Regions from separate parts of the Homo sapiens genome. Here all the other regions are linked to region 2. Evidence: fine-mapped expression QTL. A gene starts in region 2. Each other region holds a variant in brackets. All regions are shown on one strand. Distances are between the middles of the regions. Region 1 overlaps LINC00443 (long intergenic non-protein coding RNA 443). Region 2 holds the start of ARGLU1-DT (ARGLU1 divergent transcript). Region 3 has its middle 220 kb from the start of LINC00343.

Evidence for each region. PIP is the estimated chance that this variant, and not a neighbour inherited with it, causes the effect.
Region 1: its variant is fine-mapped to the expression of ARGLU1-DT in anterior cingulate cortex (GTEx, PIP above 0.99).
Region 3: its variant is fine-mapped to the expression of ARGLU1-DT in iPS cells (PhLiPS, PIP 0.95).

The regions. Positions count from the first base shown.
Region 1 is chr13:106,667,648-106,678,658 of GRCh38, reverse strand. LINC00443 (long intergenic non-protein coding RNA 443) reads right to left here. Exons shown (of 3, transcript NR_047026.1): 2 at 9,731-10,013; 3 at 6,479-7,143. Among named protein-coding and RNA genes, the nearest start is that of LINC00443, 19 kb to the right of the region's middle. The variant ATCTC/C (reference allele first, on the strand shown) is at 5,037.
Region 2 is chr13:106,612,349-106,623,359 of GRCh38, reverse strand. ARGLU1-DT (ARGLU1 divergent transcript) reads right to left here and starts at 5,550. Exons shown (of 4, transcript NR_051977.1): 1 at 5,327-5,550.
Region 3 is chr13:105,917,188-105,928,198 of GRCh38, reverse strand. No RefSeq gene overlaps it. Among named protein-coding and RNA genes, the nearest start is that of LINC00343, 220 kb to the right of the region's middle. RefSeq lists an enhancer at 8,212-9,411. The variant A/G (reference allele first, on the strand shown) is at 5,844.

The DNA of each region.
Region 1 (11,011 bases), 55 kb before region 2:
AGATATACAAAATGTTGGGGTTGGGAGGGTGGGAGGGTGACATTTTCCAAATTTAGTTCCCTTCATTGTTTCATAAACACATGAGACTAAAATTCAGGCAATTTTTTGTATGTCAATCAAATGTAATTTGTCAACAGAACCTATTGGCTTCCATCTCCCTTTTTGTTATGAGGTACCACCTTCTGACTTTGTGAAATCAGAACAAACAGAAAATCAGTGTCTAAAAATCCCATACACTTGTGGAATCGGGCACATCAATTTAGAGGTATTTCCTCCACACAGCTAGTCAGTGGGGTTGCTCAGGCTATCAGCCCAACCATCCTGCCTCATCTTCATCAGAGCCCAGAGCCGAATACAAATTCCCCGTTGAGCCTTTACCTGTAGAACTGCTAGAACCACAACATCCCAGCCCATTGCTGTACTTGCTGACAGATGAAGAGGTGATGGTGAGGTAGAGTGCAGCGGACAGAGTTTGCTCAAAACTACACCTTACACCATCAGCTCCCTTACTTGTCACAATCACCTCTCACCTTTCTAGCTGGGAAATGGCTTCCCCAGAGCAGTTCCTGGTCATGAAGCCATGCTCCCAGTCCATCTGCCTTTATCTTCGCTGGACCTCATGCAGGTGAAGTGCTGTTTGCTGTTTGTTTGTACCAGACCCTACACATGAAGAGGCTCATTGCCTGACCAGCCAGTGCTGAAGGGGGCTGTGCATACCTCAACTTCCCTGGCCACATAAATCATGCAGGATCATGAGGTTAAGCACCTCCACCTCCCATGACCTCACACTCTTCCCTCTCTGTTACCTCCAAAAGTAGTTCCTGGGTCCTCGGACAGATGTCTCCTTCCTAAGATCTGCCAACATGGATAGCACCTAGCTTATTCTTTACAACTCCCATTGCATTGACCTTTACAGACAGATCAGGAGCTTCCTAAGTGAGTCTCAATGTCTGGAACACTCTGTGATGCACTTACTTAATTGCAATAAAGCTTTCACCTCTATAATCAAATCAAAACAAGGTTTGCTCAGGACTTACCTTGGAAGGATAGGCTGGGGAAGCTAAAGAAAAGAGGTGAAACAATATATTTTAACACATTCAACTTGAAGTAATATCCAATTCATTACATTTTGTTTGTTTGTTTTTGTTTTTGTTTTTTTGGGGACAGAGTCTCCCTCTGTCACCCAGGCTGAAGTGCAGTGGTGTGATCTCGGCTCACTGCAAGCTCCACCTCCTGGGTTCAAGCAATTCTCCTGCGTCAGCTTCCCAAGTAGCTGGGATTACAGGTGTGCACCACCATGCCCAGCTAATTTTTGTGTTTTTAGTAGAGACGGGGTTTCACCATGTTGGCCAGGCTGGTCTTGAACTCCTGACCTCAGGTGATCCGCCTGCCTCAGCCTCCCAAAGTGCCGGGATTACAGGCGTGAGCCACTGTGCCCAGCCCCAGTTCATTACATTTTGTATTGTATTATTATAATATATTTCAAACCTATAGAAAAGGTAATGTAACACCAAAATGTAACACCCAAATGTAGAGGTTAAACAAATATTATCATTTTGCAGTATTTGCTTCAGATCTTTTATTTTTAAGAGATTAAACTAAACATTATAAATTAAAGCAATGACCTTCCTTTCTATTATTTATTTCTCTCTCCCCAGAGGCATCTTATAATCTGAAAGTGGTGTGTAACATTCTCAGACTTGTTTTGGTACTTCACCTGCATAAGAAACTCTTTTTATGGAATGAGTGCAGTATACACATCATGGAAAAGTAATTTAGTTCTGTCTTAATTCTTCACTAATTTCCACTAAAATAAATATAGAACAGATTCAGAAAACTGATGTGTATGAAGTCTATACGCTATTGCTTCTGTGTTACAAATTTACACTACTGTTTTATGCTGTTTAGTTGCTTTGTAGCTTGCCTTTTACACTTAATTACATTTTTTAGTTTGATCCATGCTGATCTAGTTCTACATATGCTACATACTATTTATTGTATTATGGGATTAAATCGGGGTTTTTTTGGCCATTACACTAAAAAGTTATGTTTAAGTTGCTTCTACTTTTTACTACTATATACGATGCTGCAATGATGATCATTTTGCATAATCTTCTTGTGCATTTGTGTAAAAGTTTCTCTAGAACAGACACCGATATGGTTTGGCTCTGTGTCCCCACCCAAATCTCATCTTGTAGCTCCCATAATTCCCACGTGTGGTGGGAGGGAACCGGTGGGAGGTGATTGGATTATGGGGGTGGGTCTTTCCTGTGCTGTTCTTGTGATAGTGAATAAGCCTCATGAGATCTGACAGTATTATAAGGGGGAGTTTCTCTGCACAAGTTCTCTTTGCCTGCCGCCATCCACCTAAGATGTGACTTGCTCCTTCTTGCCTTCTGCCATGATTGTGAGGCCTCCCCAGCCACGTGGAACTGTGAGTCCAATTAAACCTCTTTATTTTGGAAATTGCAAAATTTCCTGGGTATGTCTTTATCAGCACTGTAAAAATGGATTAATACAGACACCTAGAAGTGAAGTTACTGAATCAAAGGTATAGGTAACTTCAACTTTATTCAATATTATTTAGTTTCTCTTTAAAGAGGTGGTACTACTTTGCAATTTTACCAGGGATGTATATATATTCCTGTTTGCCTACCTCCTCATCTGCCAACAGAATAAATGTGAAGCTATTATTTTATTTTGCATCTCTCTAAAGACTAGTATGGTTGAACAGTTCTTGGCTTTTGGTTCCTTCTTTTATACTATTTGCCATTTTCTCCCGTTGGGTATTTAAATTTTTCTTATTCATTTTTAAGAGTTCTTTGTTTATTCTAAATACAAATCTTTGCTCTATAAATTGCAAATCTATTTTACCACTCTGGTTATCTAATTAATATTAAGAAAAACCAGTGCTTAGTATAGAGTTGCAATATGAAAAACAGATAACTTATAAAAATGTAAAAATATTTCTTCTTTGGGTAAAGAATTTTTTTCTTTTCAAAGCTGAGCATAAGGCTACTAATGTTTATCTGAAACATTGTATTGTATATACTTCTGAATATTTTCAAAAGTCTTTAATGTTCACATCTTGGCATCTTACTACTATTTACAAATACTGCTAAAATTGATTTATACAATAAAAAGCAGATTCCAAGTCTGTTAAGTCTGAGTTTGAAATATCATAGAATGTCAGTGGGATATTCTTCAGCAACTACTTATCTCAGAAATCATTTTATAAAATAAATTCTGTCCTTGGTGACATAATTTTTTCTATGCCTATAGTACCATGGAGAGCTTCATGAGAGAGAAATGTATATCTGTGTACATATGTGTATATTTGTATATGTCCAGAGAGTATCTTTATTTTAATCTTACACTCCAATTGATAAATTAAACTTTGAGGAAACTCTTTTTATGGAATGAGTGCAGTGTACACATCATGGAAAAGTAATTTAGTTCTGTCTTAATTCTCCACTAATTTCCACTAAAATAAATATAGAACAGATTCAGAAAACTGATGCTGAGGACAGACTTAGTGAATCTGTTGAGCCTGTGGCTGGAAGTCTAAAATATTATTTTGAATTAACCCATTAACTCATTAGAGATAATTCTATCCAGATTTTAGTCTGTATTTATTCAACAGATTTATTGTCTGTTTTTCTTTCTCCGAAATGGGACCCATTACATCTCTTTAAAGCAGTGTCTTCCATATATTTTACCATTTTTATTTTTCAGAGTACCTCATATACTAATTATTGAGTTATGTATCGTGTAGTCCTAGTTACAAAGCCCAGATTTACTGTATGTCCATTTTAGTGAGCAAGTTTGTACATATGCACACATATACATTGTGTCAAAATGGCCTTTTAAAAAGATGGCGATTATACTTTCAGAAGTACCACACTCCTTTACACACTACTATAGATTTATAAGGATTTCCAACCTGAAATTGAATTTCCCCTTATGACTGGATGTACTACAACCAGTCACAGGCCACAAAGCACCCTACCTCATCTCTTAGTTCATTTGCAGCAGCAGAAGGGCTAGATGGTCTTTACTTTTCAAAGCAACAGTAACAAAATGAGGAACTGAGCCTCCGTTTTATACTTGGACAATCTTGGGTTGGGATCTTGCCTGTGTAACTCAGTTGGGATTTTCATAGAACCACTTAGTAATTGTTAATCCATGTGATAAGCTTAGAGTACCGATTTTAGAAGATTGTTTTGGGATGAACTGTACTGGCTAAAAGCAACATAGACTAAGTACTGATAGGGCTGTCAATCACTTCTCCCCCAAACCTCCATCAATGTGATGGCCAGGAACTTGTGTGGGCCACAGACTCAAACCTGAACTTCTGCCGAAGATATCAAGAAGGAGAAGCCCTCTATTTACTGAAGTCTCTGACTGTAATAACTTCCACAGCCACCGTAGCACCACAAAAGGAAGGCTTTTCCAGGAATTAAACCAACACAAGGAAAGCCCAGACAGAGAGGGAAGGATGGGCTCATGATGTTTGAACCTCTGATCTGTCTATGCCTTGAGCCAGCCACACTGCAGGATGCTGTTGCTCCAGCAATTAAATGTCCTATTTTTGTTTAGGCTTGGGTTTCTGTCCTCTTTTGGGTTTCTGACGTCCACAATGCCATCCTAACGTAACTTACATTGACCAGTTCTCATCATCTCCACTAGAAGCCAGGCATTAATCAGCTCCTACCAACTCCACCGGATGCCAGATGAGTCCTGTGAATTCTAAATGGGGAGATGATTATCTGCCAAAACACAGGACTTTATAACATCTGCAGTCAAATTTTGAAGTCTTCACAGCCTCACATGTGCTACCAATTCCAAAATTTTTCCTAAGCATGACCAGTAAGCTCACTCTATACACTGTAATATATCTCAAGGAATCAGATCTTCCAATGTGTAACAATAGGTAACATTTTATAGAGCCAGATAGTCTACAAAGGTTTTTCTATGCTTTACCTGATCCTGCATTTCCCGTTTCTGTGTGTGAACCGATGCGTGGGTAGACAGTT[ATCTC/C]TCTCCTTTCAATATGAGGAAACTGAAGCTCAAAGAGGCCAAGAACACAAAGCAATGGTTCTTGAGTCATCTGACCACCTGCATTTTTTATTATATTGGTTTGAATCCTAAGAAATTGCCATTTTTTAGGTCAAATCATTAAGTTCATATGATCTTCCCTCCACAGTGTTGTCTATCTCAGGAACATTTTAGTAATAAGTGACACACACTGACACAAACTAACCTAAACAAAAATAGAACATTTAATTGCTGGAGCAACAGCATCCTGCAGTGTGGCTGGCTCAAGGCATAGACAGATCAGAGGTTCAAACATCATGAGCCCATCCTTCCCTCTTTGTCTGGGCTTTCCTTGTGTTGGTTTAATTCCTGGACAAGCCTTCCTTTTGTGGTGCTACAGTGGCTGCTGGAAGATATCAATTCACTCAGTTATTACAGTCAGAGACTTCAGTAAATAGAGGGCTTCTCCTTCTTGATATCTTCGGCAGAAGTTCAGGTTTGAGTCTGTGACCCACACAAGTCCCTGGCCATCACATTGATGGAGGCTTGGGGGACATGCGATTGACAGCCCTATCAGTAATAGGAGGGGAAGTTTCCAAAATTAAAGGAGAGTTCTGTCTCCAGAACAAAGGTGAACAAGAGCTGCTCGGGCAAAAATAGCACGTGGTCTGCTGCACATGAAACACCCAAATCTATAGAAAATCTAATACTCTCCCCAATGCTACAGTTACACTTGATTACAGAGAAAATAAACGCAGCATAATAAACAATAAGACAGAGGGAAGTTAATGAGGTAAAGACCAAGTTAATGATAAACCCAACAATGAACAATCTGGTTAACTACACATTAGAATTGATTTCCTTCTAAAGTTTAAGAAACTTGTTCCCTTAATATTGATGATATTTTGTCCACAAAGTTTTAAAAGTTCAAGTTCATCTCTCAATTTCTTACAATGACATTGGAAAATTAAATAATATTCATCCACTGAACCAAAGCCCATTGTGTAACTCAGGTTTATATTTGCATATTTCTGCTGCCTCCATTGCCCCAAATTTCAGTCAAGCAGGAAACAGAACAGATTTCCGGTCAGAATCAAGCAAACTACATACATCTACCCTACAAATTATATTGGCAAAAATAAATAAGAAGGGACTTATTGTGGCCATCTGTAAGATGACTTCAATAACTAGTAAGGCAGAGAGTTGAATTTTTACAATGTGCTGTTGGGAACCATATGAAATCCTTTATAAACCAAAATTTATATTTAGACTTGGAAGAGCAAAAATGAGTCCAGACTTCTTTGATAACCTCGCTTGTCAATGAATAAAGGGTTGACCCTTTACCCCAACATATATATTATTTTTAAAAATAAGTCTTCTAAATATGCACACCATTTGCTAATATATCTTAAGGCACAATATACAGATAAGGAATCATTGCTAATAATAGTGAATGTCTTTTATTACGTATGCATTATATAATATTATATATGGGATGAGAAGTAAAGAAAAGGGATGGAGGAAAGGAGAGATTGGGAGAGATTTTTCCTTGTTTGAATTTTGGAGGATCAACCTCTTGGTCTTGAATAGGTGATCATTATTACTAGTATTGTTGTTTTTTCTTTAATAATATGACTGATGAAGGGCTCCGTAATAGAAAAATGGCTTACTTGGCAGCTTGCTTGTGTTTGCATTATTACTATTAGCTTCATTCATTGGTTTCTTTTCAGAAAACTTTAAATTCCTTTTACGGAGCGTTAATTTAAAATAGATAATATCTGCAGAACCCAGCACACTCGAGCTGTAATGAACAGCAACCTTCTGGAAAGGAGCCAGGCTGCATGGGCCTCGCCTGCCCCACACCTCAGGCACTGCGCACGGAAACCATGCGCCATCCAGTGCAAGCAAAGGGAGCGCATGGTGTCAACAGATATGCTTCACATTTCGTATGCTCGATTTCTCTCATTTTTCAGTGATCTCATGCTTTACCCCACACAACAATAAGCCCTCCGGAGCATCGCTTCAAGCAGACACAGTCCACTGCAGACCACTCGACATGAAGCACAGAAGACTTCGGGACAGGGCTGGCCTGAAGCTTCGTGGTCCCTGTAGAAGAAAATTATGCTCTCACTGTGTAAAACAAAACAGTACGATGGTGACACAGTAGGAAAGCAAAAGAGAAAATTTCAATACTAGAAAGCTTACTGATTTGTTTCAGATTGAATTATTAATACTCATATGATACACCTAGAAAAAATAGTATCCAAGAGTACTAGTCCTATGCCTTAACAACTATCTTTTAAAAATAATTTTAGAAGTATTTTTGCAGAATATTTTAACTGAATTTGCTATTTTCATTCCAAAATTTGTCGTTTCTTTGATCAATGACTAATTACGTAGAGCAAAGTTCTTCATTTAAATTCTATGATATCTGATCTTGCTAAAAATACACCAGAAAAAAAATGCTGGGCATCTTTCATTTTTTATTTTTCATAAACCTTTCAAAGTATTAATATAACTTCTGATGAGTATTCTTTCAGAAAGAAAGAATTATATAGTGCAGACCATATAATTACTAAAATGAAAGATGAAAATTACTAGTAATAGTAATGAAATAGTAAGCGTTGTATTTGTGTGGAAATTAGTAATTTCATCTTACTAAGTAATTTCAACTGTATTATGATAAAACTTTAACATCTCCATGTTTCATGGAGGACAAAATGAAGCAATTTCCATTAATGAATCAAGATACATTTCCCATTTTAAAACACAAATGGAGTAAACTGTTGGTAATTAGACTCAAAACTATTCAATCAATTCCTATTTTTGTTAAATAATAACACATTTAGGGAGAGTTAAGAATCTAACTGCTTCTATTCTTTTTACCATGGCTCCTGAAATCTCAAAAGCATTTCAAAACGTCTACTTTACCTCCCTAAAGATGGGTATAACTCACTGTCTTATGAACAGAAGTATTTTTTTGAAATTTCTATCTAATGTCCTTGAGAAATAGAATAGCCACAAATTATTACAGCTTCTAGCATTTCAAGACACTCTGCAGAATAACTGCAAAAATATCAAGATTCAGAAAAAATTATGAATGACTCAGTTTGATTTTCAGCTGATTCAAAATCTTGATAGTATTTAAGTTTACAGATTATTTAATTAGCATTAGGCAAAAAAAAAGAGACATTACCTCGCCATGTTTCTGTTTTTCCTACTAAAAGATACTATGTAAAAACAGCATAGTAAGCACTGAAGAGTTTTAAATACATTTGCAAAACCTTTTTATTTCAACTATGTTGAATTTTAAGAAAAATGTATAGTTTGTATAGTTTGAATATCTGCAATAATAGTGTTTTCTGTGCAAAAAGAACAAATGTAGAGTGCAGCTGACAGATTAAGTTCTATTTCAGGGTTCAGTTACAAGTAAAGAAACAGAGGAAAAGGAAAGAAAGGTAAAATTACAGAATGATCGTGTGTTCCAAAGAAATCCATCATCCAGCGTTTTCTGCAGGATATCAGTTGATAGGATCAAAAGATAAAAGCCTCATTTGACAATTAAATCTCCTAAATAGGAAAACATTTTAAGTGCCAGGCAGAATCCAGTTTATAAATGCTCAGATGTGCTCCAGATTCTGTCCTCAGGACATCTAAGTTATGTGTTCTTCTAAGGGGAATCTTAAAAGGAATAGTTATTGAAATGATATTATACTGAATTTTTCCAGACTTTCATTATACACACTAGATTCTCCTGTGGATTATGTTCCCACACTCAACTGACTACTTAATGCTGGTCCTACAGTTTTCTTGTCCTGACATCTAAGTTGCCTTAATTGTAAAATGGCTTTCGTTTGTTTTTTTTTGTCAAATTCAAATGTGAATAGTCTTCCAGTATTTGCCTGCCTTTTACTAAATAATAGAGACCCTGCTTGGCAAAAGGACTGTTAATTATATTGTAAGAAAAATAGCTGAAGAACTTGCAAATAGAAATGAAAAGACTTAAGGAGAATGTTATAGTTATGTTGAAATACTTGAAGGATTGTCAAATGAAAGAGACACATATTTATCTTGTTAACTCCAGAGAGGTTGACTGTGACTAATGGATGACAATTTTTAAAAGTAGTTTTTAGTCCAAAAGAAGGGAAAAGACTTGAATGGTAATGGTAGCCCAGGAGTAGATGGGGTGGTCTGGTAAAAAATTAAGCAGAGATTGGTTATTTATGGAAGAAAAATAATGCAGAAATCTCTCAACTGTGAAGAAGTTAATGAATCTAGATAGTTGCTAAGGAAACTTTCAACTCCAAGAGTCTTTGATTCAGTGGTTTTCTTCCAGTCCCTCGTCCCATTTACCTCCGCCTGATGCCATCTTCCATCATACCGTTATCAGATAAACTGTCTTGTAGAGTACTTTTTCTTCCTGTTTATTGACCCTCAAGTTGTCTTCATTTCAGACTCTGATACTCTCCAAACTACATGATCACAAGCAAATTTCTTAACTGTTGAGATCTGCAATATCCTATCTACTCATGTAAAGCATTTAGCACAACTCCTGGCACCTAGCAATTACTAATTGTTTGCCATTATTAGCCATTATTATTTGTACCCCGACTCTCAAATCAGCCTCTCCAATGAGGCATCCACCCACTAATCAGACCCAGATTTGGTCGATCACTTAAGAAATTTCTCTCACTCTCAGGCATGCAGTTATTTTCAGCTGCTTTGAATTTGCTTGGAGACATTTGGAGAGAGTGGTGAAATTGCACTACAGTAGAAGAATCAGGATCCTCGGATGAGAATTGCTCCCTTTAAATGCAGAGGTCTACTGATGTAGCTCAGTCTAGAACTCTTCAGAGATACAAAATGCCCACTTGGAAAAAGAGAACATTGGGTCTTCTGTGGATGGCCCAGGCTTCGGCTATGTTTATGGCTTTCAGTCAGATCAAAACATGGCACAAACACTGGGAGATTCCTCCCTGGAAAATAAAAGGAACATTAAACCCAGGTCGAAGACATTCAACGAAATAACCAACTCGTACTCCTCAAAATTGTCAGGGACATGAAGGGCAAGAAAAGTGAGGAATGGCTACAATTTGGAGGAAATTAATGAGACAGGACAATTAAACTTGATATGGGATCCTGAAATGGATCCTGGAATGGAAAACAGACAGTTTGAATACTTGGCAAAATTCTAATGTGGCCTGTAATTTAGCCAATAGCCTCATATCCTCATTCACTTCCTCAGTTTGCTACTTGTACTATGGTTATATAAGGTGTGAACATAGAGGAAGCTGGGTGAGGAGCACAGAAAACTCTCTGCACAATGTTTATAAATTTTTGTAAATAAAATTATTTTTCTATAAAAGTTTAAAATGCAAAATATAATTTTTTTGAATCTGTTTATTAATTTTTACGAGACTGACAGATACAATTTTATGTACTTATCATGTACAGCATGATATTTTGAAGTATATATACATTGTGGAATAGTTAAATCTAGTTAATTAACATATACATTATGTCACACAGCTATTTTTTGGTGAGAGTATTTAACATCCACTCATTGCATTTTTAAAGAATACAATATACAAGGTGGCTGTAGCTAAACTATAATATTTTTACATTTTAAATAATATGTTAAAATATTTAAAAATATTTTAAAGAGCAATATCATCACAAGTACTAATTATTCCTGTGCACATCTCCCACCCTGTGAAACACAGATACATACATACACACAGCACTGAAAGGAAGAAAAAGCAAATTTTTAAACATTTTACATCAATTGCTATGGACTGAACTGTGCTTCTTCCTCAAAATTCATATGTTGAAGCCCTACCTCCTGTTGGGACTGTATTTGGAGATAGGACCTTTAAGAGGTCATTGTGGCCTCGCCCTTATGACTTCATTTGACCGTAATTACCTCCTAAGAGAGGCAGCACGTCTCTTCTACCCGCTTCTCACACGGGGACAC
Region 2 (11,011 bases):
TTGTATTGTGGAATTCTTTTTAATGAAGCTGTTATTATGCTACAAGAATGCAATAAAACATCTGAAACCTGAAATTTCCTATTTTTATCACCTCCTGTAAAATTTTCAAAAGGGCCAAAATGATTTGTTTCAAAATGCGTATAGGAATAATTGGATTGAGAGTTTTCATGCCAACTTTCCATTTGGAATGAAATCTAGAGACTGTTACTTCATAAACCAATGAAAATATGAGCATAAAATGAAAAGGGCAAAATATTATAGAATATAAGTATAATCAAACATAACATACCCGGGAAGGAACTACTGATTTACCATCTCCCAGTGTGTGGCTCAGCACAGGGACCTCTTTTATATAACAAAGTGCTCACAAATAATTGGTTTTACCTGAATCCCCTAATTACTTCTGGAAAAAGAAATGCTATATGCATGAATTTCTGCACACAAACACATAATGTGAAGTGCTGATCCCACACTGGTTAATTTTGAAACAAAATATTATTCTGAATTGTTCATGAAGATGATATGCCTGCTCCCTTAATCTTCTGTTTGCAACACAAATCTCAGCTAATCCTTAGTACAAACTGGCAAAAATCTAATCCTTGGCTGCTAAGCAAATGCATTTTAGCAACAAATTGTGTATGAGAAGTTTATTTAAGATGTGATTTCTTGTAACTGTTCTTGCCAAATGACCAGATAGTAATCATACCCTCAAATGTGTAAGTATACAGGAAGATATTACTTATTTTATGATTTTAGATTTAATTTTCAACTCACATCATTCTTAAAGCCATTCTTAAAGATTGGTCACTTAGGGAATGGACAAAGTCTCTCCTCCTTTGCAAATCAAGTTTCTGTGTTCAGTGGAAACCTTTTCCAAAGCATTCATCTCTGTCAGCATACCCAGTGCATGCTCTGTCATGAACAGCTCCCAGCATTAAGTGGAGCAATTCCGTCTACCATCTGGCTTTGTGAGCAAAAAGCTTTTTTTATATAAAAATATGAAACTAAGCTACCCCCGTCTAGACTTACAATCTTTCCAAGGACATTGTCCATCTCCCCATTCATTCCAAATGGATGAAATTTTAGATGGAACAGTAATAAGAGGTGAAAGGTTTGGAATCTTATTTAATATGTTTACTTGAATTGTTTCTAAAGAACATAGGAGTTGGGATCACTTTTTTAAAAGTACCACTGTCCCTCAGAAGCTACTCAATATTTGCTTTTACTATGTGACAATTGAGCACATTTTCAAAAATACAGTAGGAAACACTGTGTAACAGAAGCAACATGGATCTTATTTAGCTGTTGCAGATGTTGGTGGTTAAAACTACCCGACTTTCACTGGTTGATCTGGAATTAGATCTCCTATCCTTTGGTAACAGTTCTAACCACATAAGTTTATACTAACACTCTGGATAAAATCACAGTTGGAAAAAAATAAACCTAAAAAGTCACTAAAACAAGAATGAGTCTGAGCTCTCTTTCATTGTTCTTTTAACTCAACCTATTTGCTGCATGTGCAAGGTTGAGTTTGTGTTTCAGTCATGGAGTTGGTTTTGTTCTCCATTTTTCTTCAGCACCCACCCAGGACAAAGTACGCTGTATGCCGGCAAGTGTGGTCAAGACCATATAACCTGAGTTCTTCCTGCTCTTGCTGCTGTGAAAATTTTAAACTGATTTTTTAACACTTAAACTGCATGAAAACACTTTCTTTTAAAAAACAGTATTGTTTTTGTTTTAAGAAAATTAAATGGAAATCCATTAGGGGAGCAAGGAATATTCTCATCTCAACCGGGTAAAAACCCACAGAAACTGAGGCCACCGAGATGCCAACTTATCAGTGCAGAAATAAGCTTAGAATCTGAAGGATAAGATGTAATTCTGCATAAAACTAAGCTTCAGTACAAGAATATCCTGTTTCAGACCTAGTTGCACTGATCATCAATCAGTGTTGCCTACATGATCATGGTAAACCCAAAGTATGAGCAATACAACACGTTTGAGTTGTCTGGCTTAATGTCCTTCGGCCAGAAAGCTGCGGGTTCTGACCTCCAGCTCCAGATCCTCCAGCTAGAAGAGCAGCCCTGGAGAATAAGCAAATGCACGCATGTTGGGGCCAGATTGCTAGGGTGGAAGCCGCACCCCTTGCTTACTTGTTAAGTGACTTTGAGCAAGTTACCTAACTTCTCTTCTGTCTCAGTTTATCAGCACAGTGAATGTTACAATAGCACCTACCTCATAATGTCATAGGGAGGATTTAATGAGTTAACATTTTACATATTAAAAAAAAAAAAAAAAAGAATGAAGGCCTTTCTTTCAGCCCCAGATCTGTACTACTGCCATTTGGGGAAGAAGAATTTTCCTAGGACTCATGAAATACAAATTTTAAAAAGCTGTGTCCAACAAGAGCTGGAGTTACAGTATCACACACCATTTCCACCTCCTGAAGTGCTCCGTGCTCTCTGTCACACTTCTCATTCTGCTCTTTAACATCCCAGTATTATGAAAATCCACCCAGTTCCTTACAAAACTACCTCTCACCCTCCTTCCAGCAGCTCAGAGTTAAACTTGCAGAGGTTTAACAGTGGAAAGGAGAAAGAGCTGACAATTCGTTTATTTTTATGATGCCTTCCTATCAATGTGAACATTTGATTTTAGCCCAAGGCCACATGAGTCAGGGCAAAATTTTTAGCAGCAGAAAGGTCTTCCCAGGCCTCTGCATATCACAGCAGCTCACCTCATCCCTCTTAAGACCGTTTCCAGTCTCAGAAATACAAGCTAAACCCTAATATTGTACTATATTTTTTTTAGTACAGCATGTTGATTTCACTCAAAAGGGCAATCACCGTGACTAATATCAATCTTACAGTATCAACTTCATTTACATCACACCTCAGGTATAATGAGAAATGATTTTATTTTTCATTAACTATATTTTTATGTATAATAATAGAAAATACCTAAAAGGCTTGACTGTACACATTATGAAATTCTATTGATACACTATAGTTGTAATTTCTTATGTATGTAATAATCAAATAATAAAGAATAAGTATCTCAAGATTGGGGACTATCTGTTGTGGTTAAAATAAAAGTTTAACCTCCTTCAAATAATAAGTAGATGTCTTCTCTCATTTTATATCTGTTCAGCCCCTATGAGAGCGCGTGTAGCTGTAGCTCTTGGAACCAACAAGCAAATGGGTGATTTGCCTTACTTACCACTAGGGGGGGTGAAAGCTAAGTTAGTGACCCGGGCTGCAGGAGTCCAAGGAAGAGAGAGAAGTGGGGGAAAGGCAATGAACATAACGCCAAATAAAGGGAAAAAGAAGAGGAGCGGCAATGCGGGAAGGAAGGGGGAGGAGATTTGCTGGACTCAGGGATGTTTAGGGGTCCGTCATCAATTTCTTCAGATCCCTCATTAGATGGCCCCATAAGTAATGGCAGCTTGGTGGGAGCCTGCCAAGGGCAAGGGACCTTCTGCTTCCTCTGTCATCTCCTCACCTCTGCAGTGAGTGCAGTGAAAAGTCCCAGGTTCCTGTTGAGAACTGGGATTTTTGAGGACTTATCGCCTTTGACCTGTAACCTACTGATAAAGTGCTTGGTTTCATTTTGTTTTCTTGCTTAAAATCTCCTATAATCTCAGTGAGATAAAATGGCGGGGGGGAGGGGATACTGGGCTAGGAAGAGGGAGTGTTGTGTGGGTGCAAATCAAGCCGCAGCGCCCAGCCTCAGTAGAAATCAGCATTGCACCTCCATGCTTAAAAACAATATATCTTCTTCCAAAAGTCATGTCACAGTCCACGTTTCCCAGAAATAGTGGCAAAAGTCCCTGTTGAAATGGATTGTTCATTGTCTGGTTTGAGACACTGACAAGAATAAACCTGCTGAGGCCAGCTGGGCTTTTGTCACTTTGGTTAAAAGCAACATTATTCCAGTGGGAAGGGATCCCGGGAGGAGGAAGGAAGGAGACCAGGAGGAAGGCCACTGGGGCAGAAGGACTGGCCTCCTGGAAGAGTCAGCCACCCAAATTACCAAGTTCAAGGGGCCATCTGATCCACACCAGGGGCCCAGAACTTTTCTCCATGGGAGTCTTTTGTGCCAAGCGAGTCTGAACTCTCCCCTGAAGACAATGGGAAACCTCTGACAATTTTTAATCAGGCAACTGATATTATTATAAAACAGCCATGTCTTCATGCTATCTTACCATTCTAATTCCTAGCATAGCATCTATCCATTCATTCGCTTGTTTTAAATGCCTGTCTTCCGGCTAAAATGTAAGTTCTGTGAGAGCAGGAACTTTGACTGTATTGTTCATCACAGATGCCTAGAAAATAACCTAGGTGGGACACTGCAAACGTTCCATAAATATTTTTCGATGAATAAAGATTCATATTTTAGAAAGCTTCCTCTGGTAGCTTTGTAAGAGCTGTGGATAATGGACTGAGGTAGGGGGGCGGGGTGGAAAGAGAGAGCAGAATTAGACACCAAGGCAAAAAGTAGGGAACATGCACGAATTTAACGCATGTCCACTTCCAAACAGGTTGTGATATTGGTGCTGGGAACTGAAGTACAGAAGCCTGGATCCACAACGTACGAGCCATGGGGACTTCCATACAAGGCATGCACAGGTATCGTACAGATATAGGACTTGGGGGTCGAATCGGGAAGTTGGGGAGGTGATGCAAACAGGTGGGAAGTCCAAAGAGGACTGGTACAAACAGAAGGATAAACCAGTGGGTGGGAATCATGGAGATCCGAGGACAGGGCACAGCATCTGTAGTAGGAAGTAGATGCAACACTCCCCGCAGCCCCATCCCCCCAAAGAAAGGCAGACCCAAGAAGAAAAAGCCTGAGAATAGAAACCTTGGAAGAATAAATGTATAAAAGGGGGCAGACAGATTAAAAGGAGTGAAAAAGGGGCGGTTGTGGCTGCTGTGATGCCCAGGCAGACGCTGTCATCCTCTCCACAGCTGAGAGTGTTGGTGGGTTGGGGGGTGGTTGTCAGGGCTCCCCACTGGGTCCCTTCCTGGAAACGGCTCCCAGCTGAAGACAGCCACCCTGCCCAAGTTCATAGCACCATCCCAGGGGCAGCTGCATCCAATGACTGGTGCACAAAGGTGGGATGCAGAGGCCTGGCCCCTTGCCTCATGGTGATACAGCTCTGGGAGGCCCTCCCAGGTCAGACTCCATGCAAGATTGACCGATTCCTCTGCTGCAACTGCAACAAAGCTCAACATCTCCTTCTGCCCAGTGTTACCGCGTTTACTCCTTTATAGGTATAAGCACTAAGATCACTCCCCAAAAAACTTCTCATGGAAATTTTTACCTGCAAGTCTATTTCCCAGAACTCAACTCAATACAGTTGGTGCCAAGAGTGATCCAAGAAGATGGACTCTGAAGTGGAACTGCAGAGCTGGCTCATCCTCCTGCTGGCTGGCAGTGAAGCCCCGGCCCTGGCTTGCCGGAGAAGTGCAAGTGTCAGAACTTTCACTGGTGATGACCTGGGGTGGGAAAGAGGTGGGAGAGAATACCCTGGTAGATGGCAATCTCCCAGGCTTTTGGGAGTTAGAGAAATTACCAGTCCTGAGAACAATGGACTCTAATGGCTCTGGCTGAGTCACTGGAGGCATTAGAGAAAGACAAAGTGAGGCTCAGGGCTGTGAATCATCATTGAAAGGAAAGTGTGAAAGGGAGAAAGCCTCACTGGAGGCATCGGAAGAGACTCATCTCCTGTAGCAGGAGGACTGAAAAATCTAAGGATAAGGCCCAGGAATTAATTATAAGAATAGCAGCACTTCAAAAAAATTTGAATTCTTAGCTCTGGTTAGTCTGGTTATGGCTATGACAATGTCAGGGGCCTATTAGGGATGAGAGAGACAACAGAATTAATGCTCTCAAAACCTCAACTCTTGAGGTTGGGCACAGTGGCTCACTCCTGTAATCCCAGCACTTTGGAAGGCCCAGGCAGGCAGATCACCTGAGGTCAGGAGTTCGAGACCAGCCTGGCCAACATGTGAAACCTGGCCTCTACTAAAAATACAAAAAATTAGCTAAGCGTGGCAGTGTGTGGCTGTAGTTCCAGCTACTCAGGAGGCTGAGGCTGAGGAGAATCGCTTGAACCTGGGAGGTGGAGGTTGCAGTGAGCCAAGATCACACCACTGCACTCCTGCCTGGGTGACAGAGTGAGACTCTATCTCAAAACAAAACAAAACCTCAACACTCCATTCAGAGCCCTCCGGGCCTACAGAGGTGGCCCTGACCTCCCTGTGAGAGGCTGTGCTCTGCCCTTGCTTGAACATGGTATAGGAATCTCTGCATTGCAAGACAACACAGTGCTCCTCAGGACCCACCCCCACCTCCTGCCTTGACCAGACCCATCACTAGAGTCAAGTGAGACAGCATGTGGAGGGGAAATGCAGAGCCTGCTGAGCAAAGGAAGGAACCATGTGCCTAAAGGCGGCAGGCCAACGTGCAATGGCCAAAGCCAGAGACTCTTCATGGGACTGAATGAGGGGGATGAATCAAAGCAGGGGAAGCATGAAGTTGGAAAATGATGAGTTTATTTATATGGGCACAGTCTACTGTAATAGATGATTTGCCACCCTGGCAAGGACTCTGGGAGATGTTTTCATCACACTGCTAGGATGACTCCTGGAACTTTGGAGAAAATTACAGCCCACATTAAGTAAAGATGAAATGCCACAAGTGTGTGATAGATGATGGAAGAAGAAATAAAACAGATCTTAATCCTTGAGTCAGTTTATCTGACCCAGAATCCACTAATTCAAAGGGAGGTCAGGTTCTCAGGAGCACCCATGGCAAGGGAACACAGTTATGGTTCCAATGGTTCTTTGCCAAATGTGCCTGTGGTCACTTGTTTAAACAACTATACAGTGGAAAAGCAGAATATGCAAACATTTTGAGAAATGCTGGACACAGGGCCTGAGCTGACATTCACACCCAGAGAACTCGGGATTCCTTAGGGCCCTCTATTGGAGTAGGGTGCTTGTGGGCCAGGAAATAAATGGAGTTTCAGCCCTGATCTGGGTTCCAATGGTCCATTTGACTGAAATGCAAGTCAAAACTACAATGAGATATAATTCCACCCTGGTTAAAATGGTTTTTATCCAAAAAATTGGCAATAACAAATGCTGGAGAGGATGTAGAGAAAAGGGGACCCTCTCATACACTTGGTGGGAAAGTAAATTAATACAACCACATTTAAAATACATTTAAAATGTACAAATACATTTAAAAATAACTACAATGGTATAATTGGGTTGTTTGTAACACAAAGGATAAATGCTTGAGGATATGGATACCCTACTTTTCATGATGTGATTATTTCATATTGCATGTCTGTATCAAACTATCTCATGTACCCCATAAATATATATACCTACTATGTACCCATAAAAATTTTTTTAAAAGAAGTGTGTAGAAGCTTTTTGAGATTTGCTTTAATATAATCTAGTTAGAGAAGCAAAGAGGGAGAGTTGTGGTGAATATAAGTGAAAATGAATTGGCCATGATAATTATGAAGTTGAGTAACGGGTACAAGGAATTTCACTTATATTTTCTCTACCTTGTATATATTGGAAATTTTTCATAATAAAAAGTTAAAAAGCAGAAAGGAAGTGGATATTGATAAATACTGTTTAGATGGCAAATAGAAAACCAGGAAGCCAAGGCTTACCTTTCCCTCATCCCACCATCTTCAGCACCAGGAGTATAGCAATAAACGAAACAGGTAGAAAATTTTGGCCTTATGAAGATTATGTTCAAGTGAAGAGAGACAGACAATAAACAAAATAATTAGAACTGGGTAGGTATTTTGTGTACCTGTGTGTAAATTTGCTTCTTCTTCTTTCCTCCCTTCAGGGTACAAGATGTAACCTTTGGAGCATATAACTGGTTCAGTGATTGATAAAGTGCAGAAAATATTATATGGAAGTACTAGGGTCACAGATTCCATATACAAGCTCTTCCTGCACCATGCTGTTAGGTGTCCCCCAATCTGACTATAAAGCAGGAATATAGTTTCCTCCTCTTCAAATCTTGCATGACTTAATGCAGGGAAAGTATCACACAAAGAGAACCGAAACCCAACTATACATTCCACTGGATTGGTTTTTACTGGAGGCTCTGCAACACGCCAGATGGTTAAGCAGCTCCATACCTACAGCCTCTGTCATTCGAGGTGGCTGGGAGGACCAGAGTCTCCCAAGCTATTAATCAAAAGCTCCATTATGTGTCATTGGCTCTGATTGGGTCATGTCTAGCTATTGTCACCAGATGAATACAGTGCACTGACTGATTTAGGACTAGATCTCATGCTCCCTCACTGAACTGAGGGCAGATTCTTGCTCACGGTCATGAACTAATCATGTATGAATGGCAGGACTTGTTTTGACAGTAGAGTTGACAGCAGTTGATGATGAATTTTAAAGAAATAATAGAGGAATGATTTTCAATAGGGGTGTCACCACTCAGAAGGGAGTTTTGAAAATTTATGGGATTATTTCTGATTGTCAAATCATTAAAGGGGAATGACTGGAATTGAGTAGTGAGGAGCCAGAGATGCCAGATATCATGCCAATGTGCAAAGGTGAAATAACCCTTTGTCCTACACAACTTTTGTAAATCTCGTCCAAAATTAGGACTGAATGTATGGATGGTCTACAACCTGGTAGAGTTGCAAAGAAATGTGTTTTCTATGACACTCCATACCACTCTGACCCACATCATAACAAAAAATTCTTTTTATCTATATTTACAAATAATAAGGTTGCCCTTATTTATAAGATTACCATACTTCCTCATTTTTGTCACTTTAATGGCCTGAGTCTGTAACCTATTGTCTTAGTCTGCTCAAATTGCTATTAAAAAAAATCACAGACTGGGTGACTTAAACAAAAGAAATGTATTTCCCACAGTTGTTGAGGCTGGAAGTCCAAGATCAAGGTGCCAGTAAATTAGGTTTTATTCTAAGACCTCTTTTCTTGGCTTGTAGGAGCAGCCGTTTCACTGAGTGCTCATATGATCTCTTGCTTGTGTGCACCTGGGTTGGGAGAGGAGGGAGAGCTCTCTAGTCTCTCTAAGCCTCATGGATCTTGACCATTTTTAACCCCTGTTCCCTCCTTATGGTCCCCAACTCCAAATACGGTCACATTGGCTGTCAGGGCTTCAGCACAGGAATTTAGGTCCAAACAAAACATTCAGTCTGTAACATTTGTCTTGACGTGCTATTCATGTGTATTAGTCCGTTTCCATGCAGCTGATAAAGACACACCCGAGACTGGGTAATTTATAAAGAAAAAGAGGTTTAATAGACTCACAGTTCTACGTGGCTGGGGAGGCCTCACAATCATGGTGGAAAGTGAAAGGCACGTCTTACATGGTGGTGGCAAGAGAGAATGAGAGCCAAGTGAAAGGGGAAACCGCTTATAAAATCATCAGATCTCATGAGACTTATTCACTACCAAGACAACAGTGTGGGGAAAACTGCCCCCATGATTCAATTATCTCCCAATTATGAGAGCTACAATTCCAGATGAGATTTGGGTGGAGACACAGACAAACCATATCACCATGTATTCAGTTAAGGTTATTTCCCTCATCTTCTTATTTTATACCCTTGTGGAGAAAAAATCCACAGACTAAGAAACGCCTTCAAGATTTTCCTCAGGGTCATTGGAGAAAGAAGGGCTTCAGGCATTCAAGTAGGGCAGATGGAACATCCTGAGGCTGAGCAGAGAAGGAAAGAGTGGAGTTATCATCAAAACTTCACACATTTGAGGGGGGAAACACTGTTTAAAAGGGCATTGAGGATATACATTTTTTAATATCATAGCATTTGTCAAGGAAGACATGTAGGTTCTATAAACAAATCACAGTGTTCATCCAGGGAACTAAAGCATCAAGGATCTTATTCTTAGTTAAGATTTTTAACTTAGAATAAATGCCATGAAGATTGTTTGGCTGTAGAAGGGATGATTTTTTAAAATAAATATTGGAATAACTCTGGTTATCCTAAAACTAGTTTTAACCTAACCTTGGCTTTTAATCCAGGGTCTACTTGGCTCTCTGCTCTTTCTCTGCCCTGAACTTTCTGTTGAGAATGATTTCTGATCTTACGCCTCTCATATCCAAATAATTCTCTAAGAGTAGATGCAAGCATCTCACTTCTTCATTGTGGATTATATTAGTTATCTGTTGCTGAGTAACAAATTATCTTAAAGGATTTGGTGGTTTAAAACAACAAAATTTACTATCTCAGTTTCTGTAGGTCAGGAATTCAGGTACAGCTCAGCTGGTTTCTCTGGCTCAGGGGCTCTGATAAAAGGTGCAATCAACTGGGGATGGATCCATGTCTAAGCTCACACATGTGGCTGTTGGCAGGATTCTGTTTCTTGCAGACTTTGGGACTGAAGGCCTCAGATCCTCCCTGGCAATGTGCCCGAGGTTGCACAGAGTTTGTTTCAACATAGGCCTCTCTATCTGGCAGCTTCCCTTATCAGAATAGCAAGGAGAGCCAGAGAGAAAACAGGGTGTGTGGGGGGAGTAGAGAGAGAGGATGGAAGTCACAGCTTTTATAATGCAATCAAGGAAGGGACATGCCATCACTTTTGCTGTACCCTCTTCATCAGAAGCAAGTTAGGTCTAACCCACTCTCAAAGGCAGGGAATGGCACAAAGGGATAACTGGGAGCCATTTCAGAAACTACTAACCTCATGTTCCAAGCATTTACGTATTAAAACGTATTATCCTATTACATGTTGCATACCTTTTATTTCTCCATTTTATTATGGCTAAGGCATTTTATTCATATTTTTACCAGGTGTGTAAGATATAATGTCAACAAATTTCATTTTGGAGGGAAAGAAAGGAGCAAAAATATTTGTTTTAAAAAGGGGGATGTTGAATCTGGCAGAGTTGTAGAATACTATCCTAGATGATGGATAGTTCTAATAGGATAATGTATTTGAGAGAGAGAGAGATTGACAAAATG
Region 3 (11,011 bases), 700 kb after region 2:
GGAAGGACAGAGGCCAAGACCACATCCAAGTCTTTGAGGAGAGTTGTAGTATCAAGGCATTACGTGAAGACTGATTTGAATGGACACTTTTTTTTTAAATATACAGAATAATTAAACATTTTAGTACCCATGTTGTTTCTGTCCATTTAATAGCTAAAGAAAAAAGAATGAATCTCATAGTTAGCAAATAACCAATTTAGACATTTTAAAAACTAAAAAGAGAGTATGCATTTTCATCTCCATGCAAAGATTTATGCTAATTATCGATTACTGAGTTAAGACACTTCTCTCAAATATGAAAAAGGGGTACCCGAAGTCAGGCTTATTTTCATTGCTTAGGCCTAACTTCCAAGGTTTCCACTAGAAACACAAAAACAAAAATTTCCTTTTGTGTTCCTTAAAAATTATGGCAATTTAGATTGAGGAAGTTTAGGATTTACTTTCATTGTTTCTGTTATTTGATGCTGTGTGAGAATGAATAATTGGCTTATAATTATATTTTAGAAAACAATCAACAATTACATACATTATTAAGTTTTTTATTATAATCGGCACAGATTCCATAAAAATCAATAAAGAAATACAATTTACTACAAAATTAGTTTTGCTTTAGGCCTGATGGATGAATGGAAAACCCTGTCTCATTGTGAAATTACTGTCTCACACGAAATGCTCTTTTCTTTCTCCAATTGAAGTAAGCATCAGCTGAGGATCTGCAGAAACTGAAACCAGTGCTCAGGATTTGTACAGAAACAGAAATTATTACTGCAAAGTATATTTTTGATTATTAATTTATGCTTTCATCTTTGACTATCATGAGGTTAAAAAAACGTAATTGTATATTCCATTGATCTAAACAAAGGTGTTTAAACCTTGGACTTACTGAAATTTTGGAATAGATAATTATTTGTTGGGGAGTTCTGGGCTGTACATCATAGGATGTGTAGCAGGATCCCTGGTCTCTACCCAGTAGACGCCAGTAGCTCCCCTCCCCCAAGTTGGCATCTCCAGACATTGCCAAATATCTCATAGAAAGTGGCTGCACAATCACCCTTGGTTGAGAACCACTGCTCTAGATAGAAGAAAATGCATTTAAATAAATACTAGCCATCCAGCTTTATTTCTAAAGATTAAAACCTCAAAGCTATAATATAAACAGAAATTTCATCACAATTGGTCAAAAACACCACCATGTCAAGACTCCCTTGCCTGAGGATTCAGTTGAGTCTGCTCAGGCCTCCCTTTCCAGGCCCAGAGCTTTTCTGTCTCCACATTAGAAAGCTGTCAGTACACAAGCAGTCTGGATAGAGCCAAAGCTTGTTGGCCCAGATCTTATTAATTCCTGAGCTGTTCAAATTTAAAAGCTCCTTTCTGACACAAAAGTTCTTTGAAAACCTGTGCTCCCTGAATTTCCACTGACACTTCTGGGTGTCACTGAGTTATTTTGTTTGAAGGAACTCCCATGTTAACTTAATCTTCTTATTTGTTTCACAGGCATTCTGTCCCCTCTTACCTGGGAGGTTGTGTGGTACAAATTATTGTGTCACTGTCCTGCCAAAAGCATCACCTAAAAGGGATTTTCCTTGCAAACCAATATCAAAATGTCGACAAGATTATCACAATTTGAGAGGTGGCACCCTCACTGCCTCAGGGGCCTTAGCATTAAATCTCTTTGCTTTTTGAGTGAAACTAGCATGGAGTGGAGTTGAGAGATATATTAATAATTAATATCCTTATAAAGAGTATTTTCACATGATGTTTCCTGCCAGGTTATGAGTATGAAGGTGGATGCAAAGCAAACATTGACATCTCAGCCTTAGACACATTTAGTCTGGGCAGCTTTATATGCTGATGAGGAAACAACACATTGAGTAATTCAGAAATAGTTCAGAAAAAAAAGATGCATTCAGAAAAAAAATACCAGCAGAAACGATGGTATCAGTCCAGAAATATCCCATTCAAAACATTGAAATAACATAATCATTTCTTAAGGGAAAATGAAATTCACTTTTCAAGTTTAGGTGAAGGAAATATAGGAAAGTAAGTTATCACTTACTCCCTGGAGGAATTTAAGAACAATACCTGAAAAACTTTTAGAATTTGACATTATGCCCAAAAAGGAAATTTTTAAATTCAAAAAAAAAAAAAAAAAAGAAAAGAAAAGAGTGGGTTCTGGAATGTTTACTACATGAGAAGACCATGGAAAACAGAAAATAAAGAACAGCTCCCTGGTGAAAAATGGTCTGCAAAGAACAAGGCAGTCTATGTAAGGAGATTAATAAAAAGACTAAAAAAGCATGTAAAAAAGCTATGGAAGATCCCAAAAGATGTGTCAGAGTTATTTAAAAAGGTATTACAGAGGTCTAGAGTGCATGATAGAACAGGAAAGCAAGACACACCCACAAAATCCCCTTCCAAGACCTAATCGCTCAAGCACTATTCATGTCATATCAATCCTCTTAAGTATGTAATAGTCACTGCTCTGCAAAAGCCTCCAGATGTAGAGAATGAGATTAAACTGACTTTACAATGCCAAGAATAGAACCAAATTGCATAAGCACCACTGCAACCTTTACAACATAGTAAAGACAAAGAGATCCCCAATAATGCCTCATGAATCATGCTTTAGTGGTTACCTTTGAAATGTACAAATACATTGTACTTTCTATTAGATGCAAGAGGGCCACACATGCACGTATAGGGGTGTGTGTGTGTGTGTGTGTGTGTGTATGTGTGTGTGTGTGAAGGATGGAGATAGTTAAGCAACAGTAAGTTGTAGATGGTACAACAAACCCAGATAAAACTGAAGGTTTGTTGAGTTGCTAAGAAAACAGCAAAGAATCATACTATTGATTAGAACTCAATTTCAAGAGAAGCAATTGTAGTTTTCCTTCTAAATGAGAAAGAAAGAGTTTTTATAACTAAGAGAAATAATTATTGTATATCAATAATTTTAATACCACACTGAAAAACAGCCAGGAATAGGGTATCACCAATAACTCCCCAGAACTCTTTCCTTGTAGCCACAGCACTGGTGCCCAAGACAGTCGCAGCCTCCACTATGATGAAATAGAAAGGGCTCTGCCACTTACTACACGTCCAGATGGAGGCACTGGTAACATGGCCTTCCTTGCTACTTGTGCTACTAGACATAAACTGGATCTCCATCCAAGCTCTGACAGTCACTGATGGAATCAATGTCATTGGGGCATGGAAAACAGCACAGTTCATGGTGGGTCATCCTCCTGACACCTTTTAAATGGGCTGAGCTTAGTGATAGGAGACACTCGTAAGGGAGAGTGAACACAAACTTACGCAGCACTGAATAACAATGGCAAATGTAGGAATGCAATTTTCCCAGTGTATTATTTTAGGGATAAGGGCAGAATTACTTACAATTCCTACTTTAAAAAAAACTGTGTCTGGAAAGATTAAACAAGAAGTCATCCTTTGATGCCTCGTCTGGGGAACACTCAGTGAACACTGCAGTAGTAAATTGGCATTCTCAGAGGAGCACTGTAGAAAACAGTCTTTAGTGGATCCTTCTGCTTTAAAAGAAAAAAGTATACGTAAAATAAATTGGAAAAATTACCAAGATATACCTTCGTGTATGTGTGTGTGTGTGTGTGTGTGTGTGTGTGTGTGTTTTCGACCATGCCTGGCCTGGGATTTTGATTTGAAGCTACAGGCCAGAATTCCCGGGTCAGTCAAATACAGGCATACCTCACTGTATTGTGCTTCACGTTATTACACTTCACATAAGTTGCATGTTTTAGAAATTAATGGTTTGTGGCAATAGTGTGGCAAGCAAGTCTATCTGTGCCATTTTTTCCAACAGCATGTGCTCACTTCATGTCTGTGTGTCACCTGTTGGTGATTCTCGTGATGTTTCAAACTTTTTCATTATTATATCTGGCATGTTGATCTTTCATCAGATCTTAGCTAGATCTTCTGGATAACTTGCTGCAGCTTCTACATCAGCACTTGCTGCTTTGCCTTACACTTGTGTTATGGAGATGGCTTCTTTCCTTAAGCCTCATGAGCCGATGGAGAAACAGACAGTTGGCGGAGCAGTCAGAACCCACACAACATTTATCAATTAAGTTTGCAGTCTTCATGTGTTTTACATGACTCTTGAGCATGGCCTTTTAGGTGGAATGACAGGCAGTGCCTACGTTTGTAACTATGAACACCCTCCGTGGTTGGCCCTCCTCCCAGTAGACCCGTCAAGTCCTGCTCTCCTTTCTCATGGTGCTCACTGAAACTTGGAGTGCTGTCCTCTGTCGGGGCATGCGCCAGTGTAACTACCTGCATAAGGTCATTCTCACTCTCCTGGGGCCAAAGCAAGAGAACATTCTTGACTTTTGGGCACCATTTACCAGGGTTGACTTCCTCCTTTTTGAAATGTGTCCTTTTCTTTATGTCCATAACATCCATCTCCTTGACTTTTCTCCTCACTCTTTGAAATTGCCTTCTTCATTTCATTTGCTGCCTCATTTTCCACTGCTTATCTTTAAAATATCCATGTTTCCTGGGAGACCTCTTGGCTTTCTTCTCTCCTTACTGTGTGCATGTTCCCTGGGTGAGCCTCATTCACACCCAGGCTTCCATTGTCAATGCGTGCAATGACTTCTTATTTTGTATCTTGATCGTTTCTTCATTTCAGAGCCCCATGGCCACTTCTGGCTTGGTACAACTACAACCGTGATCATCCTCTTCATTTCCACATCTGCAGCTCTTTTTCCAGCTCTCACGTTTCCTGCAGAAACCTCAGTTACCCTGGACTTCTTTTCTTCTTTTCTTTCATCACACTACTGTCTCCAAGTCCTCTTGATCTTACCCTTTTGGTATTACTTGAATTCATCAATTTCTCTCCATGTCTACTTTCGTTTTCTTAAATCTTCATCATTTCTTCTATGGATGACAGCAATATTCCCTTCTTAGGACTTCTAAAACTGCCCGCCCCCCCCCCGCCCCCCTTTCCCCCCTAATTAGAAAGGAGTCCCAGAGAGATAGCCTGAGACAAAACTGGACATAATCTGAAATGATTTCCATTACAAGTAAAATATGTTTGTCTTCTCTTCTATCTTAACATTTCATTTGCATTGCACATGCCTCTCTAGGCTGTACATGCTAGCCATGTTAGATACTGGATTTTAAACTATGCATCATTACATAAACCTGAATATTCTGTGAAGAGCTTCAGAATGATCCCATGGTTTTGCTTATTCTCACTCCAAATGTTTAACAGAAACATAGCCCGATTCATCTCCCTGTCCCAAATCACTCTTCCCACCATTTATTTCTATTTCTGCTAAAGGGATTTTCTAAAATACAAATCTGATCATGATTGCATTCTTCAGTTTCTTAGGATGAGTGCTGACTCCTTCCTGGCAGGTACCATACTCTTCACAGCCCAGTGACCCCACTGTTACCCCATACTCCTTATTCCCTTCAGCCATAGTGAAGAGTTGTGCTTCCTCTGTCTCACACAGTTTTTGCCTCATGCCTGTGTTCTCCCAGTGTGAAAGGTCTTCCACCCATTTTGTAAAATTCTTCCAATTTCTGTTCATCATTCAGCATTATCTAAAGTATCCCCACAGAGGGAAACTCAATATTATTTAATCATGACATTTTTGCATTTTAATTGTTTGACTATAGTTGTGTGCCCTCATTTTATTACAAGCTTATTGAGGGCTAAGCGAGGTTACATTTTTTCAGGTTTTCTATTGAAGTTTCTGTCATATAGTGGATACTCCGTGCAGATAGTCCTTGAATGAAGATGGGTTCCCTCCCAGTAAACCCGTCATTAGTTGAAGATATTGTAAGTTAAAAATAAATTT[A/G]ATACACCTAAACTACTGAACATCATAGCTTAGCCCAGCCTTCTTCAAACGTGCTAAGGACACTTAGCCTGCAGTTGAACAAAATCGTCTCACACAAAGCCAATTTCTGTATATATTTTCAGAAGAAGAAATGGAGGGAAGAGGGAAGGGAGAGAAAAATGGAAAGAGGGAAAGAGGGAGGGAGGGAGAAAGCCTCGTCTCCTGCCTGTCTTCTTTTTCAGCCCCAGTGGTCTTGCCTGTAGAGGCAGGGCGTGTCTGCCCTTGAACTTCTTATCTAACCAATTTACAGAATGCTTTATTGAACACTAATCTTAAGCCAGACATCCTGCTATATGATGGATAAAGGTAAATAAGGTAGTTCCTGATAACAAGCAGTTCCACCAGTCCCTTCCAGTGTGCTATTAGGGAAGTCAATAAACTCCTCTGTGTCTCAGTTCAATTCAAAGAGAGGACTCTGGCCGGGCATTGTGGTTCACGCCTGTAATCCCAGCACTTTGGGAGGCCAAGGTGGGCAGATCACCTGAGATCAGGAGTTTCAGACCAGCCTGGCCAACCTGGTGAAACCTTGTCTGTACTAAAAATACAAAAAAATTAGACAGGCATGGGGGCACATGCCTGTAATCCCAGCAACTTGGGAGGCTGAGGCAGGTGAATCACTTGAACCCAGGAGGTGGAGGTTGCAGTGAGCCGAGATTGCACCAGTGCACTCTAGTCTGGGCAACAAGAGTGAAATTCTGTCTCAAAAAAAGAAAAAGAAAAAAAGAGGACTCCAAAAAGAGGATAACAGTAATACTTTTCCAATACATTTGCCATAGGGATTAAGCTCATGTAAAACTACTTAATAATATAATGTGTCTGACAGAAGTGACCCCTCCCCAGTCTCTCTCTCAGACTCCTCTGTCTCTGTTCTTCATCCCAGACCTGTGGTACTATGCCGAGTGGTGGACTAAGACGTCGGGGGTGATATGGAAGGTAAGTCCATGTCCACTTTGTCCTGGCTCAAGGTGCATCTCAAAAATCAGGCTCATCTGGATACGAATCACCCTCTGCCACTCATTAATTGTGAGTGGGGTTTAGGACAACTTACTTTACCTCTCTGAGTGTAAGCTTATTTGTCTTTAATGTGGAGAAATTAAATGTATATTTGTCCTTGTGTTTTTCAGAAAATGGAATAAGTTAGTACTTGCATTAACAACAGTACAGAGATATCATATGCACTAGCTACCCTTCTTACCACCTGCCTAACTTGCCTCCAGGATTCTTGCCTCACTTTCCTCACCATTTTTTAGAAAAGCCTGTATCTTCTTCATTCATTCTCCTATTGTACCATCCCTACTCCATGGCCTTCTCCTGGGTCACTGTTTTCCATGCTTAGTGTTATTACCCTCTGAATTTACTGATGTCTCTAAATCATGTTATAAGGGCCAGAATCAAGAAGAAGTGGTGTAAAGAGAATTAACTTTTATCAATGATCAGTATTACCTGTGGTTCATTTAGTGCTTGGTAGATGCCATCTATGTTGTAATTACTGTAACATGTTTACACTTAGGATTCTGGATCTAGAGCTACCTTCTCCCAAGGAGCAGGATCTCAGCTTTCCCTTTTCTTTTGGAGATAATGTAAGCAGCTGGTAGAAGAGCTTTGAGTTGAGGGGTATAATAGGGGGATTATGAGGCATTGTGTTGGGGCAGAGGACAGAGGGAGCAACTCTGCAGAGTCAGGGAGGCTCCAAAACGGAAGTGACCTTTTGCCCTGGGTTTCTATTACAACTCACTGGAAAATGGTTTACAATGCTGATTTGCACAAATAATACCAAAGGCAAAGGAAGAAACGAAGAAATCCCAGGCTGACTCAGATATAGATCACTCGTGTCTATGAGGAAATCTTGACAGCTTGTGTCAAAAGTTCACTCTTCGTGACTCAAATGGGTGCAATACCAGAAAAAGAGAACCTGATTAGATCAGTGGTTCCCAGACCCCTAGAATGGGAGGACAACTTTGTAATGACCTTTTCTCTCAGATTTTTTCCTAAAAAAGAAAGTGTACTTTTAGAAAAGAATCAATTAAATGATTAAGAACAAAAGTTACTAGGAATTCAGTATCAATTGCATATGAATTTCCATTTTGTTCAGTGAAAATTTGCATTTGAAAATAGTAATTTTAAATGTGAAAATGGTAATAAATATGCCAAAGGTGGTTACGACTTTCAATCTATATGGATTCTTGGGCTTCCTGCAGTCACTTTAAAGTCTCCTGAAGTCCCTTTGCTGTACTTTAGGGTCCAGTGATCTGGGTTTTAATTAGAAGCACTCTTTCAAAGGATTTCTTAAAAAAATTAACAAGTGAAAAGAATTGTACAATTTTAATTTAATTAAACATTTGTTTATTTCATAGATAGTCTCCTTATCCGCATTGTTTTTTAAAATCCCTCCCACCATGTTTTATCCACATTGTTTTTTAACAATCCACAAAAAACAGCAACGATCAATTAGCTGATAACATATTACAACCACATAGAGGCCTAATTTGCTCCTGTTTTAAAAGCATATTAGTGCTAGTTGTGCTCATTAATGGTTACGGTTCTATTAATCAGGAACAAATCCATGTCATCTGAATTTTCTTGCCTCTTGCAACAAGGTAAGCACAGATGGTAGATGACACGGGAGGTGAGTCGCTCTGCAGGTCGGCGCTGCCCGAGTGATCTGTTAGGTGTGTGGATGCACAGACCACACGGTGTATTTCCGGAATGTCTGAAAATGTGGGCCACATGTGACCAACAAGATAATTATGAAACCTGACTGCTGGATATGCTGATGCAGCCAAAAAACATCAAGGACTGTGAGTGAGTTTGGAGGTGGGAGCAGAGAAAATTTCTGCAATGTGTAAAAATGGACCGCTCTCAGAGAAAAGGAGCATTTAAATTCTGCCCAGTTTACGGGTTTCCAGTTCCTGTCCTTTCTCCTGCTCATATCTGCATCTTTCTGATCTCCCGGGAAATCAGCCGCTGCTCTGCCCGGTCAAGCCCCTCCTTCCGGAAGAAGGGCTGAGGCAGGAATGACTCATTGCCAGGGAGTGCCTTATAGAACCGGGTGAAAAGGCAGTGTGACAATATGACTGTGAATTTCTTATCAGTGTAGGCTCACCAGTGATGAGATTAAATGGAAAGAACGTATCCTGCTGTCATCAAGGCCAGTATCATAATCAACTTTTATGATTTATCAGCATTGTAACCTGGGGCTATTACTGCAAGTTTTGAGCCTCCATTTTCTCATCTCTAAAGCAGAGTCACAGGGACCAGGTGCAATGGCTCACACCTGTAATCCCAGCACACTGGGGGGGCCAAGGTGGGAGGATCACCTGAGCCCAGGAGTTCAAGATCAGCCTGGGCAACATAGTGAGGCCTTGTCTCTATGGAAAAAAAAAATAGTAACAATAAAAATGAAAAAATAAAGTAAAATAGAGTCATTGCCTCATTACAGGATTGGATGTGGACTAAATACGATCATATGTGTGAAGTTACAGGAAAAGCCTTGTGGAGCAGGATTAGAAAGAACAGAATGGGATCTAATTGAGATGAAATGAAGACCTCCTAACAATTTCTTATGAAGCTTCCTAAATCTCTTGCATGTGACAGTGTAAGTCTCTTTTCATTCCATCTACCCTTAAGCTTCCCCAGTGGTGAAGAACTGTAGAGCAAAGAGCAGCTTTCGAGGGGAACACTGCCTCGGCCCTCACCTTCGTCCAGGGCTTAACCACTGGACACAACTCAGAATCTTGCATTTATTCTTAATTTAAAGCCTTATTCCAGCCTGAGATGCAGTTCCCTTAGCTTCCTGCTGATCTCTCCTTTAAAATAGTCTCTTTCTCAAATCCAAAGTACACTGAGGTGTGGGGGAGATAACAAAAAGTGAGCTTCATTGACAGGCTCAAGAGGGTCACGTGCATTAAGAGACTGTACAATTCACAGGCCAAGCACGAAGGCCACAGACAGCCTTGAACGTGGGAGTTAAAGTGAGGGTTCTGGGGCCACAATGCTCAGATTGCGTTTAAGCTCTACCTCCTATTAGCTGTGTGACCTTAGCTCTTGATCAAGACAACTTTATCTTTATATATCAGCTTCCTCATCTGAGAAGGATAATTATACCATTAATATCACTGGTTTCCCATGACAATTCAATGAAATGATAGATAAAAAGGGCTTAGACCAGACCTCAATTAATAGAAGGTGTTAATTTTAGCAATAGCTGTATGGCTTAAGAGTTCCTGTCATCCAAGTAACAGGATCAGAGGACACTGTGGCATTAGCATAGCAACATTGGTGGGGACAGCAGGGATGTCGGATGGCGTCTGATTGTCAGGGTTAGTTCGTAGGGTCAAACTCTGCAGCTGCTTTAGAAGAGTGCTGTCGTGTGGGAGATTCGCTCTGTGCATTGGTAGACTATAAGTACAATCCTAAGAAAGTGATCCCACAGGTGACTGAACAGAAAAAATCATAGACCAACTTAAACTTTTCATAGACCATGGTGTATTAATCAGTTTGCATCTAGACCCAAGGGAGAGTAGATGGGGTAAGTTAACAGTTAGGATAGGGTGCAAATGGGGTGGAGGAGTCGTACTCCTGAATCCCAGGATGTGCAGTGTTTCTACACGCACAGGCTCTCTCTCAATGCCACATCCATCTTTCCTGCAGATGGAGTAATTGAGGTTTGAGCAAGATGTCCCGGGTTAATAGCACTCATTTGGTCTCCTGGAGAGACACAGGGATAAGTAAGCCTGGAAGATGGCTGTGGATTGTCCCCAGCTAGCTGAACAGCCCTGGGATTTATTGCATTGCTGGGGCAGAAGACTCTGGGACCAGAGTGGGTGTCACCAGTCGGCGGCTAAGTCAAGGTCTCAGGCATACCGAGTGCTCGTGTATATTTAGTGTGTCCTGAGAAAGGACTGAATGTTTCTTGTATATTTGCTGTATCATGGCTCGTCCATATTTAGAGTAACTTGGATACTTCCCACCCTGATGGCTTATGTTTATTTAGTGTCTTGAGAACACTGGGTGTCTCTTGATCCTTCCCTTCTTTTCTATGTATGTTTAATACCCATTATTCCATTCACTAACGACCTTAACAAGCTCATGGGTTGCATCCATCCCACTTGTCTTCTTGTTTCTATAGT